Homo sapiens: one gene and its partners. The protein of the gene in region 1 purifies or fractionates together with the protein of each later gene. This does not show direct contact. Each region holds a gene or a part of one and is shown in the gene's direction. Other genes may lie near its edges.

Region 1 (4,133 bases):
CTAGAGCGTTGCAGTCAACTGTCTCACTTGCATCCAAGTGAAGACTCCTGTCTACACCCACAGATCTTCGGAGCAGCCGCTCTGTGCTGGCCTGGGGAACCAGCCACACCTGATCCCCCACCCACACCCTGAACTTGGCTCCAAAGGAAAGGGGTGGGAATGGAGCCCTGTGTCCCCAGAGTGCCTCTGAGGCAAGTGCTCTGGGCACGGAGCACATCAGCGAGATGTCTGCCTCTTGAGTGCAGCAGCTGCCAGGCACACTGTGGGGCTTCCCTGGCCCTCTGGCCTGGCAGCTCCTGCTTTGTCATCGGCACTGGGGTTGTGGCTGAGACAGGGATCCCCTGGAGTCTTAGAGCTGGGGCCCCTGCAAGGCAGGGGTACTAGATGTACCCTGTACATCTAGTCCTGCCTGCTCCCTTCTCCCTGCAGCCCCTGCTTCTGGAGGGACACTGGGAAATTGGGGACAGGATGCTCATAGGCTCAGGAAACATATCACCCATTTAATCCTGCATATGTGCAGGTGCAGAGTGAGATTGCTGCACAGAGCAGCACCTTCCATATGACAGTCTTAGTAATTCTGTAGGTTGGTACAATTTTTTTTTTCTTTTTAAAAATGTTTTCACAGAGACAGGGTATCGCTATATGGCTTAGACCAGTCTTGAACTACTGGGTTTCAAGCAATCCTCTCGCCTCAGCCTCCTGAGTAGCAGGGACTGTAGGTGTGTGCCACCATGCCCCACTTGGTACAATTTTTTGTACCCTTTTAGAAACTAGGAAACAGGCCCAAGAGGTGAGGTGACATTCCTGAAGTCATAGCCATGAGAGGGAGGGCCTGGTCTTGTCTGGCTGACCTCATTGCATGTGGCCTTCCTAGCACATCTCCTTCCCTTTCCTTTCCCTTCCACTTTCTCCATTGTACACATAGGGAAACCAGGGCAGGTAACATGGGGCCTCTCAGCCCCATCTGCCTCCTTGGGACCCCAGAGCCCATGCCACACAGTGCTCTGCTCAGCACCCTGCTGTGGGCCTCAAAGCCAACTGCAGCCTCCTGGGAGCAGCCAGGGACTTGGGGTGGCCACGACCACATCCCCAGAAGGAGCAACCTGGATAATGGCCCAGAACCTGACATCACGTCCTGACTGTCGTAATTAGCAATGTTCCCTGGCTAGAGCCAGCAAATGTCATTATATGGGCTTGCGGGCAGCTGAAATCTGATTAGAGGGGCCTCACTCTCCCTGGGCTGTGGGAAGTGCACAGAGCTGGCAGCCCGATCGGCAGAGGGGCTCCCCCTCCCACTAATGTTCCTGAGCCCCAGTCCCAGCTCTGGGCAAGGTAGAAAAGTCAGCATCCATGGCCTCAACCCCCTAGTCTGGCCATACAGAGCCAGCCCCTCTGGGTTGGAGTCCTCAGTGCCCACATGGTATCCTCACACATAATCCCAGGGAGGCTGAGAGATGAGGCCAGGGGGCAGGGCAGGGCAGCTGAGAGGAGCAGAGGAGGCGCTGAATTGTGGGGGGCCAGACAGTGGTGTTCCTGCACGGGTTTTGAGCAAGTGGGAGGCTTTGCTTTGTAGAGCATCCCAAAAGCAGCTGTTCTGGGGCTAGGCGGTGAGGAGTTGAGTGACTGCTGCCAGGGTTCTAGCATGGCCTTGTGTCTGATGGGGCTTAGTGGTGAGGGCCTGGAGTAGTCACGGGCTCAGTATACCTGGTGGGCTATAGGAGATAGTGTAATGTAGGCAGGTGTAACCATGAGGAGGAGCTCCAGCCAGGGGCTCTGCCTTACCCTAACTGCGTGACCCTGGGCAAGTGACTTCTCTCTGGGCCTGTTTGACCATCTCCAGCACTGGAATAAGAGGTGCCATTGTGGGGCGTTTCTGAGGCTCACAGGGCTAGGTCCCCACAGAGTGCTCAGGAGCCATAGCTGCTGCAGGGATCATCATCCCCATCACTGCCTCCCTGCATCTCCTTCCTCTAGACCTCCTGCCCCCCGAGGTCTGCAGTCTCCTGAACCCAGCAGCCATCTACGCCAACAACGAGATCAGCCTGCGTGACGTTGAGGTCTACGGCTTTGACTACGACTACACCCTGGCCCAGTATGCAGACGCACTGCACCCCGAGATCTTCAGTACCGCCCGTGACATCCTGATCGAGCACTACAAGGTGAGACGGGGGTCCTTGCCACCAACAAACCCAGGGCTTGGAGGCTGGCCAGACCCACCTTGGCCTAAGCTCAGGGCTGAGTCGTGGGGCTCCCCTGGCCCTCTTGCCTGGCAGCTGCCCTGGGCAGGTGGCTGGATTGACCCCCTGGGGTGGCCACCCAGCCAGCAGGTCTGGCAGGGCTATTGGCTTAGGCCTGGCCCCTTTCCCCCGGCAGTACCCAGAAGGGATTCGGAAGTATGACTACAACCCCAGCTTTGCCATCCGTGGCCTCCACTATGACATTCAGAAGGTGAGTGGCTGGACCTGTATAGGGGCTCCCTCCTTGGCCTCCTCTTGGTATGGTCATTACCCCTCCGTCCCATCCAGCTGGGGTTCTGGCATGGGCTGAAAGAGGCTGGCTTGGGGCCACGGTGAAACTGCCTCCTCACCATCCGTCCTGCCTCCCTGGCGCCCCCAGAGCCTTCTGATGAAGATTGACGCCTTCCACTACGTGCAGCTGGGGACAGCCTACAGGTCAGTCGGCTCTGCCCCAACCCCACCCCCGCCCCACCCTACACTGCTGTTCTGGCTCAGGACTACCTTGGACTGATGGTATCTTGGGCCTGCTCAGGGGCCTCCAGCCTGTGCCAGACGAGGAGGTGATTGAGCTGTATGGGGGTACCCAGCACATCCCACTATACCAGATGAGTGGCTTCTATGGCAAGGTACTCCATACCCCAGCAGCCAGCCTGCCCCATGGACATGTGCCCATGTCCCAAGGCAGATTTGGGGCCCTCGTCTCCAGCACTGAAGGGGTTGGGGTCCCAAAGGGTGTCTGAGACAATGGCCCCCTCCCCAGGGTCCCTCCATTAAGCAGTTCATGGACATCTTCTCGCTACCGGAGATGGCTCTGCTGTCCTGTGTGGTGGACTACTTTCTGGGCCACAGCCTGGAGTTTGACCAAGCACATCTCTACAAGGACGTGACGGTGAGGATGCTGGGCCTGCCCTCGGATGGCAGGAAAGACTAAGTCCAGCCACAGTGGGACAGCCCCACCTGGGCCCTGCTGTACCCTCATTGTCCTCCACTGCCCCCAGGACGCCATCCGAGACGTGCATGTGAAGGGCCTCATGTACCAGTGGATCGAGCAGGACATGGGTAAGTGTGGACAGAAGCCCTGCCGTGGCCGGCCTGAGCAGGTGGCAGGACTGACCCTCACAGACTCATCTGCCCCATTAGAGAAGTACATCCTGAGAGGGGATGAGACGTTTGCTGTCCTGAGCCGCCTGGTGGCCCATGGGAAACAGCTGTTCCTCATCACCAACAGTCCTTTCAGCTTCGTGTGAGTCCAGCCCCTGTGGATGGAGGGACAGCAGGGCCAGGGCTCTGGGTGGGGAGGGCAGGCACGGAGCCGCCCTCAGACTACTTGCCACCTGAAACTCCTCCACACAGAGACAAGGGGATGCGGCACATGGTGGGTCCCGATTGGCGCCAGCTCTTCGATGTGGTCATTGTCCAGGCAGACAAGCCCAGCTTCTTCACTGACCGGCGCAAGTATGGGCATGGTGGGGGTTGCAGGGCCAGGGAAGGGGAATAGAGGCCCCACCCCAATGAGGGGACTGAAGCAGGAGGCCAACCTGGCCCTTGCCCACTGCCCAATGTGCTTGGGGTGAGAACACCCCCTTGCTGGCATGGGTCCACTTGAGCAGGTGGGCCTTTACGGAGGAGGGATGGGGGTTGCCCGGCCCGTGGCCCAGCCACAGACTGGAAGTCATGCCCTTTACCTGCACCCCAGGCCTTTCAGAAAACTCGATGAGAAGGGCTCACTTCAGTGGGACCGGATCACCCGCTTGGAAAAGGGCAAGATCTATCGGCAGGTAAGGGCCATCTGGGGAGAGCAGCATGTGGTGGGGGCATGGGGCCTAGCTAGGGCCCCAGGCTGTGCAGAGGCAGCCTCTGAAGAAGCAGCACAGCTCCTTGGCCCTGAGCAGCCTC
Region 2 (4,148 bases), on another chromosome or scaffold:
GTGAAGATGGAAATATTCTGGACCTGAGCTTTTCCATGTGGTGGCCACTATACCCATGTGGCCCTTGAGAACTTGAGATGTGACTAGTGTGGCCAAGGAATTGTATTTTTATTTTTATACAATTTTTATTAAATTTAAATAACCACATGTGACTAGTGACATATTGGGCTGCACAGATCTAGAAAGTTACACACCAGGGTGTTAATAGCGTTATCACTGGGAGATTCTAAGGGTGGTTTTCTTTTGTTTTTGGCATGTTTTTCTGAAAGAATCATATATTGATTATTTTTTCAATAAGAAAAGCTTTTTTCTTTTTCTCTTTTTTTTTTTTTTTTTTTTTTTTTTTAGCACGTCCATCCTAGCTTTAATAGTGAGTGCTTGTTGGAAACAATAGTGTGTAAGTTCCCGAAGGGCAGAATCCTGTCTGTTCTGCTTCTGCTTACTGCTATATCCCCGGCACCTAGCACAATGCCTGCAACATGGAGGGCTTTCAAAAATTATTTGACAGGCTGGGCATGATGGCTCATGCCTGTAATACTGGCACTTTGGGAGGCTGAGGCAGGCAGATCACCTGAGGTCAGGAGTTTGAGACCAGCCTGGCCAACATGGTGAAACCCCATCTCTACTAAAATAAATGAGCTGGGGTGGTGGCATGCTTGTGTAATCCCATCTACTCTGGAGGCTGAGGCAGGAGAATCGCTTGAACCCGGAAGGCGGAGGTCGCAGTGAGCTGAGATTGTGCCACTGCACTCCACTCTGGGCAATACAGTGAGACTCCATCTCAAAAAAAAAAAAATTTTGTGGAAAGATTAAGTTAGAGCAGTGGGAGAGAAACTGGAGAAGGCAGGCAAGGGGAGGACCTAGCGAGAAGGACCTGGAGTATTTTTGTGTGTTCTTTTTGTTTGAGACAGGGTCTTGCTCTGTGTCACTCAGTGCAGTGGCACAATCATTGCTCACTGCAGCCTCGACTTCCCAGGCTCCAGTGATCCACCTCAGCCTCCTGAGTAGCTGGATCACAGACACGTGCCACCACGCCTGGCTAATTTTTGTATTTTTTGTAGAGAGGGGGTTTCGCCATGTTGCCCAGGCTGGTCTCAAACTCCTAAGCTTAAATGATCTGCCTGTCTCAGCCTCCCAAAGTGCTGGGATTACAGGCGTGAGCCAATGTGTCCGCCTGGACCTGGAGTTCTTAGAATTTTTTGCGTAATCCTGTAAATATTAGGGAGCCATAGAAAGCTTTTGATGCAAGAGAATGGAAGGTTGGAAGCTGCATTTTAGGAGGATTCCTGTGTAAGATGAATTAGTGGCTTGAGACTATGCCATGTTATATACAGGATAATGATGGTAGATTTGGAAAGAGGAATCCATGGAATCTGTTGAGCTACTGGACATGGTGGGGAGGAAGATAAAGAAGCTATACGCTGAACACATGAGGCTGAAGTCCTATGCCAATTGGGAGACAGAAGCGAGGAGGGTGTGATACTTTGGGGGCCCCATCCCATACTCCCCAGAGGGTTAGTCATCTCTGCCCTTTCAGGCCATCACACATTGCTCTCAGTTTGTTTATGATGGGATTATAAATTAACACACATTTACTTACGGGAAAGCCTGCATGGCAGAATAATGTTTCTATGTAAATAACTCCTTTTCAGGTGAGAAGCTGCATCCACTGCAAAAAATTATCTATAGTACTTGAACTAACAGGTACTGCATTTTGAGGCTGTTTTGTTACTAACTTTGCTGCCTTGGTGTTTCTCTCTCCACTATAGAATATCGTATCTACTCCAGTGAAAATCAAGCTGATAGACATGCTTTCTGAAGCAGGACTCTCTGTTATAGAAACCACCAGCTTTGTGTCTCCTAAGTGGGTTCCCCAGGTGAGCCCTAGCCCTCAATGAAAGGCCTTTCTCTAGGGATGAAAAGTTTTGCATTTGCCTTTGAAGCAAGTAGAAGTTGAGAACATAGGTTTCCAAGCCCCTGGCTTTGAGAGGTCTCAGGTGATTCATAGCACTGTGTTGCAGCAAAAGAACATGACCCAGGATTCAGGGCCTTGGGTTCAGTCTTGGCTCTGCTCTGACTTGCTCAGTGACATTGCTAAGGCCTTCCCCTCCTCAGTGTTAGAGATGACCTCTTCTAGCCCTAAAGTCTAAAACCCTCTATGCCTGTCTGTGGTTTCTTTGTTTGTAAAAGAGGAAGACTGACAACTCCTGCTTCACAAAGATAGTTAAGTGAAGAAGAAACATCCTGTTACAAAGGAGTGCTTAACACAGAGCTGAGCTCAGTGCCTGGCCCAGAGTACATTCTCAATAAATGGCTGGTAGTAGTATTCCTGCTGTTTCTGCATATGTAAAGCTGGCAGTATGGGCCATATGGAGAAATTGGGATCTCAGCCAAACCAAGGGCCCTTCTGAGCCATCAGCAGTCAAACAAACAGTAAAAGTATTGGAGAGACTCAGCTCTGCAGAAGGAATTACTCGCTAAGAGTTCTGGAGAACAGAGGTTTTGTGATGAAAAGGTTTTCTCTAACTGAACTCTCTGTCTGCTCTTGGTGATGACTTGGCAATGTCTCCCTTGGTTCCTAGATGGGTGACCACACTGAAGTCTTGAAGGGCATTCAGAAGTTTCCTGGCATCAACTACCCAGTCCTGACCCCAAATTTGAAAGGCTTCGAGGCAGCGGTAAGAGGATAGCTTGTTGGTGGGGGCTCCTGAAATGAGATTGATGGCATTGGTCCCTGCCTTGTCTTGGCGCCTCAGTCCCCTGTCCTGGGATGTCCATCTGAATAGCTTGTCTGTCAGCCAGACCCTGGGGCAAACCTGGCCCTGCCACTCACTGCTCTGTGATCTTGACAAGTTGACAAGCCTATAAAATAGGGCTAAATGATAGTACCTGAAGTTGTGAGCATTTCAGAAGATAGGATGCATGTACATTGCTTAGCAAGAGCCAGATAAAAGGTAACTGCTTAATAAATGTTAGCTCTTTTGATTATCCACTTCTTTAGAGAAATGTAACCAAACTCTCCACAAGAGTTTCAACAGTAGTTGCTGGCATCTGCCAACTTTCTTACAATTTTAGACAAGAACATCTTTGGAGGCGTTGGTTCTGTATTTAGGCAAAAACCTTTTTTTGGCTGGGCACAGTGGCTCACACCTATAATCCCAGCACTTTGGGAGGCTGAGGCCGGAGAACAGCTTGAGGCCAGAAGCTTGAGACCAGCCTGAGCAACATAAGGAGACCTTGTCTCTACAAAAAAAAAAAAAAAAATCAATTAGCTGGCTGTGATGGCATGCACCTGTAGTCCTAGCTACTCGGGAGACTGAGGCACAGGATGGCTTGAGACTAGGAGTTCGAGGCTGCAGTGAGCCATGATAATACCGCTGCACTCTTCCAGCCTGGGTGACACAGCAAGAAAAAAAAAAAAGCTTTTTCTCAAGAGTGACTTCCAGGGTGGTGATGGCAGTGGTGGTGGTTTCCTTGGGGAAAATCAAAGTTTTTTTTTTTTTAATTAAGAGAAATTACTGTGTTTGTTTCCTAGTGCTACTGTAAGAAAGCACTACAGGCCGGGCGCGGTGGCTCACGCCTGTAATCCTAGCACTTTGGGAGACCAGGGCGGGCGGATCATGAGGTCAGGAGATCGAGACCATCCTGGCTAACACGATGAAACCCCGTCTCTACTAAAAATACAAAAAATTAGCCAGGCTTGGTGGCAGGTACCTGTAATCCTAGCTACTCAGGAGGCTGAGGCAGGAGAATCACTTGAACCCGGAAGGCGGAGGTTGCAGTGAGCCAAGATCATGCCACTGCATTCCAGCCTGGGTGACAGAGCAAGACTTTGTCTCAAAAAAAGAAAAAAGAAAAAAAAAAAGAAAGCACTACAAATTGGGTGGCTTAAAAACAACAGAAATTTATTCTCTCACAGTCTGGAGGCCAGAAGTCCCAAATCAAGGTGTCAGCAGGATTGGTTCCTTCTGAGGCCTCTGGGAGAATCTGTCCTATGCCTCTCTGCTGGGGTCTGGTGGTGGCCAGCAGTCCTTGGCATTGCCTGGCTTGTAGATGCATCTCTCCAGTCTTTGCCTCCGTTTTCCCAGGGCCACCTTTTCTGTGTCTCTGTGTCTTCACTTGGCCATCTTTTGTTTTTGTTTTTTTTA
Region 3 (4,148 bases), on another chromosome or scaffold:
CCAAAACTTTGTGGGGAAGGAATATTTCGGGAAGCTGTATTCTTTCTGCTTTACCTCTTGGGAAATTTAGAGACTGCCTTAGAACTAACAGGAGTGCTCAGTATGATTTGGCATACGGACTCTTGAATGACATGGACTGTATATAACGTATATTGGAAAAGAATACATTTGTGTTTCCTCTGTTAGTGTTAAAGAGCAACAAGAAAACTTAAGGATGATCTCCAACTCACTTATACATGAGAAATTAGGTTCAGATTTTAATTTCATTGATTTATCTGAGGTCACAGTCATATTCATGTGGTGGAACTGGGGCAGCCCTTAAGATATCCTGGAAGCTTAGAAGTTTCCCCATTGTCTTTTTTTGTTCTATTCAGGATTTAGCAATATTTATTAATAAAAATTCAGGGTAGTACATTACCCTCCATCCCCTTCTCACCTTTTTATTCATTTAACCAAGAATAAAGTTTTGTGGTTAGCCGTCTGTTTCAGCGTCTGGTTTTTAATAATTTCTGTTTAGGATTCAGTCCATTTAGGTTGTCTCAGAAGATAGCCTCTTGTAGGTCTCTGTCTCCGGGAGCCGTCTTTCTTTATGTAACATTACTTGACATGGCATTTATTTATTCTTTGTGAAACTTCTAAGAGTAATTTGGGAAAGTTAGTATTGACCTTTGTTTTGTTACAAGATATAGTGCGTGCATGAGTATGCGTGTATTTTTTCATTTTTAAACTCAGTTTGCTACACAAGTCATCTGTCACTTCTAGTTACAATAGGCGTTTTACTTGGTTTTCGTATTCCTGTTCGGGAATGTTAAAGATTCCAAAAATACTTAGTTTAAAAACAAGCCCAGTAGTTTCTCTGAGAGTGTATTTACTTTTTAAGAAGCTGCCAAATGGTTCGCAATTCTGACTCCTTGGAGAGTAGAGGTAAGAAGCCCTTTCCTCACACTGTTCTGTTACAACCACTTGATTCTAACCATTTCCCCCATTACTTGAAAAAGGTTTTAGAATCCTTTCTCATTAATTAGTTCAGAATTAAGAATAAATTTGCTGTGTTGAGACTGTAATTGTTTTAGCTGGCATGAGTGATCGTGCACAGTGAAAAAATCATGATAATAAAACTTAGATGAATAAAATTTATTTGTTCAAATCTTAAAGCCTTTGAGGTTTAAAAAGTATAATCATTGTGTTCTAATAATTAGACATTAATAATAAGTAGTAATTAAAAATACTTGGTTTAGCTATGTAAAACATAAAAGCTAACAGGCTTGGGGGAAAGACTGATTAAAGTAAGAAACTATTTTGAGGCATCTTTTTAAGGACTAAAAGTATTCCACTAGCCTGCCATTCTCTTTTTTGACGGATAATTACCTGATTCAATTAAAATGAACAGGTACAAAACTTCCATATACATACAGTACCAGGGATGATGCACTAAACAGGACTGAAGACACCCTGTCCTATAGAAGTGCAGAGTAGTGGTTGGCCATCCACAGCAAGGTGATGAGAGCTGAGACAGACCAGAGAGTAGGATCTCTGCTGTTACTTAGTTCCGAAGGAGCAGGCCCTCCTTCCTTTTCAGTGGCAGTTGAGGTTGCTCTTTTTATGTGGGAGAGTGAAATTAGCCAAGATTAGATCCCATAAGGAGAAGGAGGGGCTCTTATAACCAAGACCATTGTCTTTCTCTAGAAGAGGATGGTTAGGGACCTGAAAAGAAATGAGATTTTGTGTTTCCTTAGGTAAGATAGGATTCTTTCTCCTCAGAGGTGATTTTAGGGAAGTAATTGAAGATATTTTAAAGGAAAGCTCCATATCTCCAAAATATTATTTAGTAGCTGAAGTTCTACCAGGTAGTTTCAGTTAGCTTTCAGATATGGGATGCTTTGGGTTGGGTGTGGGGGTGAGAGTTGCAGGGGCAAGTTGCAGGGGCAAGATGCTGGGCAAATTGCAGGGGTGAGAGTTGCAGGCCTTAAGTACTCTATTAGGGGAATAGAGTACCTAAAGAATTGTGTATTTTAAGTTAAAAGTTATACAGGTATATGGTAAAAAAAAAAAAAATTTAATGATAGAGTAAAAAATGTTACTTTTTTCCTCCCCCCACAGGTAATCCACTGTTAACAGTTTCTTAAAAGTTTACTTTAAAAAAAATTGTACAAAGAGTATTGTTATACTGTTGTACTGTAATTTACTATTTTATTTATTTATTTTATTATTATTATTATTTTTTGAGATGGAGTCTCGCTCCGTTGCCCAGACTGGAGTGCAGTGGGGCAATCTTGGCTCACCACAACCTCCACCTCCTGGGTTCAAGTGATTCTCCTTCCTCAGCCTCCTGAGTAACTGGGACTACAGGCGTGTGCCACCATGCCCAGATAATTTTTGTATTTTTAGTAGAGACTGTGTTGGCCAGGCTGGTCTCAAACTCCTGACCTCGTGATCCGCCCGCCTCGGCCTCCCAAAGTGCTGAGATTACAGGCATGAGCCACCACGTCCGGCCTACTGTTTTATTTTTTAACTGTGATTTACTTTTTTCCTTAGTTAAGTCACAAGCTCTTTTCATACTGGCACATACAGATCAACATAATTAAGAAATAATAAGAATATTTTATTATAACATAATTTATTTTTTCTGACTCCTGTTGAGTAGTACTACGTTGTAATAGTTTACATTGACCAGCAGCGTATGAGAATGCCTGTGACATGTATTTACCAACATTGGACTTTAAAAAACTATATTGCCAATTTGATATATGAAATTTGTCTTGTTTTGGGTTTGTATTTCTTTGTGAGTGAAGGTAAACATTTGTTTATATGCTTATTAGGGGGAGGCCATTTGCAACATATTCTTTAATCAAGTGGTTTAATGCTAGTTTAATTTACTTGCTGCCCCCACCACCTACCTTCACCCTTACCTAAGAGCTAAGATGGTCTGAGAGAAGTGGGACTTTAAGAAGAGGAAAAATATTTTGGGGCTCATGGCACCTTGACGGGGAGCAATGCTCTGAATGGAGAGGCTACAGCACCTGGCTTTGAACAACTCTGGGTCAGTATGAGAGTATTGAAAGCCCTTGACTTGGTGTAAACATAAGGTAGAAGAGAAGCTGAAGCGACACACAGGAAGGGAGATTTGAGAGTCAGGGCAAATAAATTTTGTATAGAGTCAACCCCACCTTGTACCATCTGCTTATCCTGTCTCATCACTTCTCCCTCCCACCTTCAACTATCATTTCATTTTTATTCATACTGTCATTTGGTTTTCTCCTCTTTTCCTGTCAGGCATGGCAGCCTGGACCTGGGTATTTCAAATGCCCCAGAGATGAGGTGTGCTTAGTTTTTGGTTTTCTTTTTTTTTGAGACGGAGTTTCGCACTTGTTGCACAGGCTGGAATGCAGTGGTGTGATCTCGGCTCACTGCAGCCTCGGCCTTGGCAGGTTCAGGCGATTCTCCTGCCTCAGCCTTCTGAGTAGCTGGGACTACAGGTGCACGCCACCACGTCTGGCTAATTTTTTGCATTTTTAGTAGAGACAGGGTTTCACCATGCTGGCCAGGCTGGTCTCGAACTCCTGGCCTCAGGTGATCTGCCCGCCTTGGCCTCTCAAAGTGCTGGAATTACAGGCGTGAGCCACTGCGCCCTGGCCTAAGTAGAAGCTCTTGAGCACTTTTTCCCCCTCTGTCTCTTTGGTACTATTCCTTTCAGCTTTCGACTCTCCTAGCCTTCTGGGGTAACATAAATAGGTCAAGTCTTTATAGCTGTAGTTGGAATTCGGAAGGTCACTGGCATTTAAGACTTGAACATAGGAGCATATATCACAATATATGCTCCTATGATATATCAGGATGTGATGCTTGATAAGTGGGGTCCCTTTCTAAGGAATGCAGAAGAGCATGGTGGTTAATTTAAGCATATAGACTTAAGAGTCAAGACAGCTTGGGTTTTTATCTCCTCTAGCTAAACAAGCAATTACCTAATCTTACTAAATCTCAACTTCTTAATCTGAACAGTGGGACTAACAGCAGAAACCTCATTTTTAAAAGCAGCTTTATTGAGATACAACTCACATACCATAATCCATTGAAAATACACAATTCATTATTTTTTAGGATACTCATAGGTTTGTGCAGCCATCATCACAGTCTGATTTTGGAACATT
Region 4 (3,941 bases), on another chromosome or scaffold:
TAGGAAAATTGGTACTGTGATAAATTTGAATCCAAAATCCTTTTAACTATGGGTTTTCAACTACATGTTTCTTCCTAGCGGTCTCTATAACAGGAATTGTGTAGTATCTTGTATTTTGTGGAAAAAGGAGATGGTAGGGATTGGTTCAACATTTGGGTACTTAGAGGATAAAGCTTCGTGGTCGTATAAATTTAGATCATTTGGATTGATTTTTATACACATAGATTTTCAGGACTTTACCTTTTGTTTTGTTTTTTTCCTTTTAGCCATCTTTTGTTCTTGTAATCCCAACTAGATAGGCTTTATGCTCACATCATTGTCCCATACCCACCCCTTTCTCATCCCCATTTGCAGGGGCTAAAGGTCTAGATGAGACTTGGAAGGCAAGGAGCATCGAAATTTGAGATACCCAGGACCCTTTCAAGCAAGAATGGCCAAAAAGCCTTGTGCTGTCTTTGCTCTTCAAATTATTTTCAGCCTCCTTGTCATATAATCATTTCAGGCAAACTGAGGCAACACTAACAGCTAATGACCCAGATGGCTCTATTTGGGTAATTTACCTACAACTTATTCCACCAGCCTTTACTCCTCTGCCCTTTTGTCAATTTTACCTTATAATCCTTTATTAAATGATGGGAGGTGGTGATCAGGACAAAAGTGTTAGGTTCCCATGATTTCTCATTTCATTTATTAATAGTTAATGCTGAATTTTTTTTTAAGTTTCCTCTGGCTCTATTTATGTTACTTTTTGCGATAAGAACACTTAACATAAGTATTCTCTCCTCTTGGCAATTTTTTTTTTTTTTCCTGTGTTGCCCAGGCTGACCTCCAACTCCTGGGCCCAAGCAATCCTGCCTCAGCCTGCCAAGTAGCTAGGACTACAGGCGTTCACCACTGCGCCCGCAAAGTTTTTTTGTTGTTTTTTTTTTTAAGTTGGTACTCACAAATCACTACCTCTGTTATATTGACAAGCTCTATTTCCTATTCTTTGTATCTGTTAAGTCACATCTGTGTAAACATTGAGCTCACCTTTTATATATTAACCTCTAGAATTAATGGGCCTATGTGGTTTTTTTTCAGTCTTATAGCTGGTGTTCTGTAAAAGATTTGTCCAATAAACGACTTAATGAATGATACATCAGTCAGATTTTAGGAAGGCAGTCAATTATGGATATTTTAATGTTGGAAGAGGCCTTAATGATCAAATCTCACCCTTTCTGCTTCTGAAGTATGAAAATCTAGTCTTTTTAGGACTGGACACAAGGAAAATAATCTCTAAACTATTGACTAAATTCCAGTGAGAGTATGAATGAAGAACAACTAGATATTAATGTCAATCATTTAAGATTAATGGGCATGCAATTAAGTCTCCATTTAAGATTAATGGGCATGCAATGAAGTCTCCAGCAGACAATCAGATGTTGTTGGATGTCTAGATTATATAGGTTTAGGTTGAAGTTATAAAATAAAATAAAATTCATTTTCCACTGGAACTCTATGACATTCAGTGGAGTGGTGGAAAGTTAACCTCTTATACATTATAGATAATTCTAAGACAGCACACAAACTTATCAATAAAGCCATCTCCTTGTGGGCCTTACCATCTTCATCAGATTTAGACCCTTAAAAAACAAGTAAATATGCACTTTTAAAATGCAATCAAAAGACTGGTGGTTAAGCTTGTAAAACCAGAACATCTTTTGGCATTCCACTAAGTATATATTGTAAATTTAATGAACAATCAAGGTTCACAATAGGAAGTTGTCTTTTTTTGCCTTCCATTCTGTGAGATTTGACAGATGGTGACAATAAGAAAATGAGCTGATTGTAATTACTCTCTGTGTGTTTTTTTATTGCTAGCTATCATTACCAGTTAGAATTAACATTAATTACAATTAACAATAATTTTAGGTATGGAATGTTATGATTACCTAAAGAGATGTCTCTACCTAATGAGCTCAAGTGATCCTCCCACCTCAGCCTACCAAGTAGCCAGGACCACAGGCAAGTGCACCACCATGACTGGCTAGTTTTGTTTTTTGGTTTTTGGTTTTTGGTTTTTGGTTTTTTTTTTTTGGTTGGTTGGTTGTTTTTTACAGGCGGGGTCTCACTATATTGTCCAGGCTAGAAGAATTTTCTAATGGTCTATTACACCTCCCGTTTTGGCAAGTAAATTCAGAATAATTTTAGGTTCTTTTGTTATTCAGTAGTTTTGCAGACTTAAAAGTGTAAATTTAGAATTAGAAGATGAAGCTATAGTAGTAAGAATCTCAAGCTGAAGGGCTTTGGGGAGCCAAAGCAGCATATTAGAGCATAGGCTTGAACTTAAATCTCAGCTCAGTCACCTGCAGGACTTTAGGCACCAGTGATTTCACCCTTCTGAGCCTGTTTCTTTATTCGTAAAATGATTATAATAATTCTTTCACAGCGTTGTGAGGATTAAGTGAAATGTGTTAAATGCCTACTACAGTAGGTGCTCAGATATTTATTTTTATTTTTTTATTATGCACATTGTTTTTCCTGCCTTTTTATGGCTGTCTAAAGTCTAGGGAAAAGGGAAGACTGGTTAATGATGAGTAGAAAAAACTTGTAAGCTAATCATTCACTGACTTATTTTCCTTCCATTTTCTGGTTTTTAAAATTAGCCACACCACAGGAAACCCACATTTTTAGATGGAAAGAGCAAGAAAATTGTGTCAGTGCTCTTAGTTATTTTCATCTTAATGGTATAGTGAAAAGACATTGACTTGAGATGATACTAAGGAAGCTTTGGCTCACTCTCACTTGAAGAGGGGATCTTGGTGTTGTAGTACTTGGACTGTACAAATGTTTTACTGACTTTTCTTACTGCTGTAAAGGAATCAGGCAGTTGGGTATTGATATGTTATTTGGTGCTCTCATTCATGGCAAAGGATTTGATAAATAAAAGTTCTTTAAACACTAAAGCAAAATCAAATGAGCAAAACTAAGGATGAAATGTAATATTCATCAGAACAAGGATCACTGAGAAAAAATATTCAGAAACAACTTTAATAAAACCTGAATTGAAATAACTGCAGCTCTGGTGTTTAGAGTCTTTGTCTGCCTATTCGTATTGTATATGGAACATTATGGTCACTTCATGACTGCTGACCTGCCTTGTTGATGCTCTGGAGAGGTACCTTGAGATCTCATAGCAGCATAGCCAAGTGGATGCACTGTGGGCTTTCCCCACCCTGCCTCCGTGTTGAAGTCTTGTCTGTTTTATTCCTCCTTGACTTGCCTCTTTCTGATTGCTACATATTTCTTAGATCTGGATTCCTATTTCTGCCTTTTTTTTTTTTTTTTTTTTTTGAGATGGAGTTTTGCTCTTGTTGCCCAGGCTAGAGTGCAATGGCGCGATCTCAGCTCAGCGCAACCTCCGCCTCCCAGGTTCAAGCAATTCTCCTGCCTCAGCCTCCCGAGTAGCTGGGATTACAGGCACCTGCCACCACGCCTAATTTTTTGTATTTTGAGTAGAGACAGTTTCACCACGTTGGCCAGGCTGGTCTTGAACTCCTGACTTCAGGCGATCCACCTGCCTCGGCTTCCCAAAGTGCTGGGCTCACAGGCCTGAGCCACTGTTCCCAGCCCTATTTCTGCCTTCTTTTCTGGCATTGACTTGTTTTCTTGGGTTCGCCTTTTGGTTCTAGGTGTCTTATTTCCTTTGACTACTGCTGACTATTCTCCTAACCAGATTACAGACACTTGGCCTTGTTCTGACCTTCAGCTTCCCCATGTCCTTCCCACCTTGTGACTGCCTGGCCTTGTCTTTACCTCTGCTTCTCAGCTAGCTTCCATATACCTAGACTCCTGGCTGAATGGCCCTCTGTTGGGCCAGCCTTCCCTGGGATTTGGTCTTGCGTTTTCATTATCTTTCCAATACTGTCTGTACACTGTAGCTCCATAAACCATGTGTCCCA

The links.
Region 2: the proteins of NT5DC2 (region 1) and HMGCL purify together in Homo sapiens (co-immunoprecipitation; one large-scale study listed by IntAct). This does not show direct contact.
Region 3: the proteins of NT5DC2 (region 1) and PDS5B fractionate together in Homo sapiens (co-fractionation; one large-scale study listed by BioGRID). This does not show direct contact.
Region 4: the proteins of NT5DC2 (region 1) and GRPEL2 purify together in Homo sapiens (co-immunoprecipitation; one large-scale study listed by IntAct). This does not show direct contact.

The regions. Positions count from the first base shown.
Region 1 is NC_000003.12:52,527,176-52,531,308, reverse strand, and holds part of NT5DC2 (5'-nucleotidase domain-containing protein 2), read left to right. Parts: intron 1-1,974; coding exon 1,975-2,159; intron 2,160-2,373; coding exon 2,374-2,448; intron 2,449-2,616; coding exon 2,617-2,672; intron 2,673-2,769; coding exon 2,770-2,863; intron 2,864-2,997; coding exon 2,998-3,126; intron 3,127-3,235; coding exon 3,236-3,296; intron 3,297-3,377; coding exon 3,378-3,480; intron 3,481-3,590; coding exon 3,591-3,692; intron 3,693-3,933; coding exon 3,934-4,015; intron 4,016-4,133. UniProt on the Homo sapiens protein: Promotes dephosphorylation of tyrosine 3-monooxygenase TH which decreases TH catalytic activity and leads to reduced synthesis of catecholamines including dopamine, noradrenaline and adrenaline.
Region 2 is NC_000001.11:23,815,205-23,819,352, reverse strand, and holds part of HMGCL (hydroxymethylglutaryl-CoA lyase, mitochondrial isoform 1 precursor), read left to right. Parts: intron 1-1,769; coding exon 1,770-1,877; intron 1,878-2,582; coding exon 2,583-2,678; intron 2,679-4,148. UniProt on the Homo sapiens protein: Mitochondrial 3-hydroxy-3-methylglutaryl-CoA lyase that catalyzes a cation-dependent cleavage of (S)-3-hydroxy-3-methylglutaryl-CoA into acetyl-CoA and acetoacetate, a key step in ketogenesis. Terminal step in leucine catabolism.
Region 3 is NC_000013.11:32,588,923-32,593,070, forward strand, and holds part of PDS5B (sister chromatid cohesion protein PDS5 homolog B), read left to right. Parts: intron 1-4,148. UniProt on the Homo sapiens protein: Regulator of sister chromatid cohesion in mitosis which may stabilize cohesin complex association with chromatin. May couple sister chromatid cohesion during mitosis to DNA replication.
Region 4 is NC_000005.10:149,351,526-149,355,466, forward strand, and holds the end of GRPEL2 (grpE protein homolog 2, mitochondrial precursor), read left to right. Parts: 3' UTR 1-3,058; downstream 3,059-3,941. UniProt on the Homo sapiens protein: Essential component of the PAM complex, a complex required for the translocation of transit peptide-containing proteins from the inner membrane into the mitochondrial matrix in an ATP-dependent manner.